Linked DNA regions of Homo sapiens: region 2 is linked to region 1. The links come from fine-mapping of genetic effects on plasma protein levels. A gene starts in region 1. The other region holds a variant in brackets. All regions are shown on one strand. Distances are between the middles of the regions.

The links. A credible set is the group of variants that fine-mapping cannot tell apart. PIP is the posterior inclusion probability: the model's chance that the variant is causal. The UK Biobank Pharma Proteomics Project read protein levels with antibody pairs (Olink). The fine-mapping took linkage between variants from a reference panel, not from the people measured, so its PIPs are less certain.
Region 2: its variant is the best candidate, but not a certain one, in a credible set for the plasma level of the CA13 protein (UK Biobank, PIP 0.71).

The regions. Positions count from the first base shown.
Region 1 is chr8:85,243,742-85,246,660 of GRCh38, reverse strand. It overlaps CA13 (carbonic anhydrase 13), which reads right to left and starts at 1,203. Exons shown (of 7, transcript NM_198584.3): 1 at 796-1,203. The coding sequence starts at 832. RefSeq lists an enhancer at 399-508 and a silencer at 869-948.
Region 2 is chr8:85,883,823-85,886,741 of GRCh38, reverse strand. It overlaps LOC124901971 (a long non-coding RNA gene), which reads right to left and starts at 849. Exons shown (of 2, transcript XR_007060987.1): 1 at 748-849. The variant T/A (reference allele first, on the strand shown) is at 1,564.

The sequences.
Region 1 (2,919 bases):
AGAAAAAATGTTTTACTTTTGATAATGTGTGATATACAAGAAGAAAAGTGTATGTCATTATTATTTATCCTATTAATACATTTCTATCAATGAATTATAATTTCAGTAATCCTTTGCTCACCCTGCAAGGATGAGCGTGGAGAAGAAGAGTGGAGAAGTAACCCACAATGTAACTTAATTTCCCAGCGAGAACCTGAACCCTTACTAAAGTCCCCAGTAGTAGTCAGCCAACTGCAAATTGCTGTGGGAATATTTACAGTAACAACTATTAGGAAACATGCAGTATTTTGTTTGCCACGAAGCCAACTTAATCTTCAGTGTCACAATGCAAGTTAAGATTTCCTAAATATATTTTTAAAGATTTTCTATGATTTGTTTCTCCTAAGTGAATAGTGAGCTTAAAAGACTGAAAGCGAACTTGTCCTTATTTCACTGAAGTGTGTCATCAGACTTCTGATCTCCAAGCCTGTAATTGATACGTGGCTGTTACTAGGCAAAGTCCTTGGCTTTTCAGATGAAGGTGAACTCACACGTATGAACACTTGGGAGTTTGGGGAATCCTGACAGAGATAACACACACCAACGCTCACATCCACCACCAACAACCCGTCTACCCTGACAAGACTGCTCTCCGCTTCTCGCACTGGGCTCCCAGGAGTGCTGCTTAGTTTAAAGAGGAACCGAAAAAGTTTCTCAATGTGCGAGCCCAGTGTGTGGTCAGCGAGCGCCGGGGCGTCGCGCTAGTCCTCTCGTCCCCCGCACAAACCCCCCCTTGGATCAGGAAAAGGCGCTCACCGTTGTGCTCGCGGTATCCCCAGCTGAGCCTCGACATGGTCCCTCGGGGTGGAAGGAAGAGAAAGATGTGACTGAGCAGCGAGAAAGAGGAGGGAGCGGGGAGGGGCCCGGGAAGGAGCCTGCTAGGGCGGGACCGCGGGGCGCCGGCGGCAGGAGTGCGAGACCGTGAACCCGGTCCGGGGCGCTCCCGCCTGCGTCCTCCAGACGGCAGAGGCGTGCGGGGAAGGCGCCCGCGCCGCTGGCTGACTCCTGGGGCGCGAGTCTCTCTTAGTTTGGACTCGGGAATGAGAGATTTGAGTTAGAGGGAGAGACGGAGAGAGAAAGGTTTCCGGGGGGGATCTCCTGCCTTCTGAGGAGTCGTCACTCGGGAGAGGAAAGTGTTGCCTAGAGGACTTCCAGGAAGTGAATGAGTCACCAGAGCCTGGAACTGCCAGGCTGGGAGGTGGGGATCCCGGTGGAGGCGTAAAAGAGGTCGGTGATGGTCGTGGCAGTGATGATTACAAATACAAAACAATAATGACGATGGTAATCACCACCACTGAAAAATAACTACTTATTAAGGGCTTATCGTGGGCGAGGGTCTTAGCTAAGACGTGTACCCACGTTTTCCCATTAGATCCTCTCAGCATTTCCTCGAGAAACACGTGGCTTAAGTTAGAGACACTATGTAACCTGCCCCGGGTCGCTCAGCTAAAGCGGGCGGGGTCGCTGTTAGAGAGGACCAGCTCCCGGTCCTGGGCTGGCTCCATTGCCCATTCATCCTTTCCTTACCTCTTCTCACTCTGCAGGCTTGTGGCTTGGTGAGTGAGGAAACCAAAACCAGTTGTTGAGATTTGGTCCCAAAATTCTGCTGCCCTCCTGACCCCGCAAGAAGGGTTTTCAGGACATCTGCCCTGGATTCTTGGTGGGCTTGTTACCCTAGGACTGGAGTCAGAACTAGCTGCAGAGTCTTGAATTTCTGGCCTGGAGTCGTGAATGTTCTGGGTTCAAAGTGAAAAATAAAAATTGGGTACATGAACCACTTTCTACGTCCTTGTCTCGGGTCAACTGCCTCATATTTTATAAATCCAAGCAACCTCTTTGTAAGGAACCTAGTAAACCAATTTTCAGTAACTCGGATGATTTGGTATGTCAAGATGAATAATGCTCTTAACGTTCTAAGTAAGTATCAGTTCTTGACACCCAATAATAGTGGTTACATGAATGGATGAATGACTGAATAGACCAAAATTGTTAAAGAAATTTTGGTTGGTGGGTCTCAAATACTTCCCAAATTGTTACTTTTATTGCTTGGGTACACAGTTTGTAACCACCCAATGGGTTTACCTTGCCCACTGTCAAGACACAGCTGATTTATCAAGACAGGGGAATTGCAATTCATAAAGGGAAATTCACGTAGAGCCGGCTGTGCAGAGGACTGGAGTTTTATTATTACACAAATCAGTCTCCGCAAGCATTGGGGATCAAAGTTTTTAAGGACAATTTGGTGGGTGGAGGAGAGCCAGTAAGTCGGGAGACCTGGTTGTTTGGGTCAGAGGTGAAATCATAGGGAGTCAAAGCTGTCTTGCATTAAGTCAGTTCCTGGGTGGGGGCCATGGGATCAGATGAGCCAGTTTATCGAGCTGAGTGGTGCCTGCTGATCCATCCAGTGCAGGGTCTGCAACATATCTGAAGCACTGGTCTTAGGCTTTACAATAGTGATGTTATTCCCAGGAGCAATTTGGGGAGGGTCAGAATCATACAGCCTCCAGCTGTATGACTCCTAAACCATAATTTCTAATCTTTTGGCTAATTTGTTAGTCCTGCAAAGGCGGTCCAGTCCCCAGGAAAGAAGGTTTGTTTTGGGAAAGGGCTGTTATTGTCTTTGTTCTAAACTATAAACTATGTTCCTCCTCAAAGTTAGTTCAGCCTATGCCTAAGAATGAGTAAGGACAGCTTAGAAGTTAGAAATAAGATAGAGTTGGTTAGGTCCAATCTCTTTCACTGTTTCAATTATAATTTTGCAGTAGTGGTTTCAAGTTCCTTCTTGTTTAAATTCATAGCGCAGTCTATATAATTTTCTAAAACAGCAACCTAAGTATTGGCAACAATCAAATTACCTTTCATAGGAAACTAGTTAGGTCA
Region 2 (2,919 bases), 640 kb before region 1:
GCATAGAGTTATTGGCCTGCAATTATTCTATTGATTTTCAAACATGAAAAACTGCGTTTCCTCTTCTGAAGGAAGGAAGAGCAGAGGAAAAGCATCTAGAGATGTTGATTTTCAGATCAACTGAAGTGAGAGCTGCTGATCCACTTGTGCTAATTAAAATCAATATCCCGAACAATGAACTGCCGGGATCATCTGGAAACAGGAGACACTTGCCAAATGTAGTATTGTATTGACATGCAGGAAGAAGCCTATGTTTATCCTAAACAAATAGAGGGAAAAAAACAGCCTTGAATTTAGTAAAACCTGGCAACCTTTTTTTCCATAAAATTGATTCTGCATCTTTAGTTTTAACTGGAAGTAGAAATAATCAATCTTATCTTTATTCTAATTAGCTCTCATTAATTTTATTTTATTCTAATTAGTTCTCACTATTGAAACAAAGGATAAATAAACATCTCAGAAAACCTCAAGGCATCCTAGTGTGAGTTTCTCTGCATCTGTTAGGAATACATCTAGAGTTCATTTTATTTTGAAAATAAATTTCAGAGTGGTTAAACCATTTATTGTACCTTACACAATAAATCAATTATTAGATAAGCTAAGAATTTACATTTTGATTTGCACAGTTTGTGAACCACACAGTCACTCTAAGCTCCTCTCAAGAATATAGCATCATCTGTAAGAGAAGCTTTTAGCTGAACTGGGTCATCCAATGAGACTTGGTTACTGTTATCTTTAGTTACTCACGCAGCTGGGGGCACATTCCAATTTTTTTCAGATTATCTTAAAATGTTGAAATCTTGAACTCTGCAAACAGATATAAAAACTCTTATCAGTCTTGACATAATCCTCATTAGTAGAAACAATATTATAAATGAAGTTTCTATTTTCCAGGACAGATGTCCTTTTCAGTAAATGGCCTCTTGATGATTGTTCTGTGAACATCTAAAGCCTGTGATTAGAGCTCTTCAAATGACCAGAAGTCACTACTCAAAATCTTCCTTACCACACAATTACTGGATCATGTGCTTCTCTTGTGCTTCTGTGCTACTCCAGCATGATCCAACTTTTGTTTGGGAGGAAATAGATGTTGTTTGTGTCAGCAACAAACGAATCACTGTCTTTTATGGTAATCTAAAACATTGAAACTTGCATTCTTTTTATGAAATCAAGGATGTGGAAACTATGCCTTAGAAGTATTGATTTCTATTGTGTTACCAAACATTTATTGATTATGTGCTAGATTTAGCATTTTTATATAATTTAATCTAGGCATCACTCCTTTGAGGTAGATTCTAAATTTAACTCCATTGTGAAAAGAAGGAAACTGTTTAATAGTAATTCCTGTATCACCCAGAGTCACACAGTAAGTAGGGATATGAAAATAATTCTTGGACGAGATCACAAGAATCTTAACAGTAGTGGTGAGAGTGGAGAGGAGGAGGCCAATGTGGTGAGAGGTAGAGGGAACTGAAGGGACGATTGGGAACCCTTGTTTGATTCACTTGTCTAGGTGCCAAAGAATTAAAGGGGCCATTTCTAAACTTTCATGAGGCCAGTCTC[T/A]GCTCTTCAAAAGTCATGCTCTCCCTTGAGGCTTCCATATGTGGCTTTAAATCTCTCTTTGGAGTTGAAAAGCACTACATAGGTTTGGGGCTGATATTTCCAGTAAATCTCTCCAAATCTCCAGCTAGTCCCTTGGGTTATCTGGGGCATGGAGACATAGGTTCCCGTGTCTCATTGGGGTTACTCTTAAAAAGGCCATTTAACACCCAATGGAAGTTTAAGAGATGGGTGATAAGGAGCAGAAAAGTATACAAGTAGATTTGGGGATTGCCAAACTGGCGATCAATCACCTATAATTTTTACTGTGTCATCAGCATAGCCTTTCTTCCAAAGTTAAAACTCTTTGTCTGATAAAGGAGGAAATCAAACAATAATTTACAAACAGTTTGTTTTTGTTTTACTTTAAATCCCAAGTTCAATGAGGACCAGATCCTAATAAGCTACAATTTTGTCTTGTTTTCCCCATCTAGAAATTACAATAGATAATATGTTGTCTTTTGTTCTTTGTCAGTGTTGTCAGATTCTAGTCTTTACATCTATTGTTAATTTTCATGATCACTACACCCTCCATATTTGGTTACAAAGCTCCAGGATGCATATGTACAAACCAAACAATAGCCAGGGAAGGACAAAGGTTCATTCATGAGACTGTCAGAGCTCCAGCAGAATATAGAAGCTAATTGTTTTCTTTTAAATGGGAATAAAACACACAGGACAGATTATTCTTGTTGTTTGTACTGTCACAAGAGCAGATAGTGATATTTGTAGCTCATAATTCTTTCCTTTATTCCTGCTGCTAAACATCCACTCAGGCCATTCAATGGAAAAGAGGCAGGAAAGATTTTACTCAAACGTGAATGTTTATAAAAAAGGTCAACAGATTCTCACTGGATTTTGAAATTAGTTTCCTTTAAAACATATCCTTTCTGAGCTACGTTTTCATATTTAATATTAATATCAAACTAATCAAATTTAATAAATTAATTAGATCGTTAGTTCATAAATACTATAACACATTAACTAATGTAATTAATATTTAATATTAAAATCACCTTTTAATAATATTAACAATAAGTATAATAATAATGCCTTTTCACAGTATATAAAAAGAGAGATTTTATATAGGACTTCTGGGCATGAGGTAAGAAGAGGCAACAGGCTCACTTTGATATAATGGATGAATAGTTTAAATTCCCTTCCTTATTCTGCCAGACTTGGCATTTGGATTCTGGTAACAGCCATGGATTTAAGTGTATGAAGGGCAGCATCTCATAGAAGTCTTTAATATTTTGGTATAAAGCCAGATCTGCCTCAAAATGTAATTGGCCTATTTCATTTCTCCAATTTACTACCATT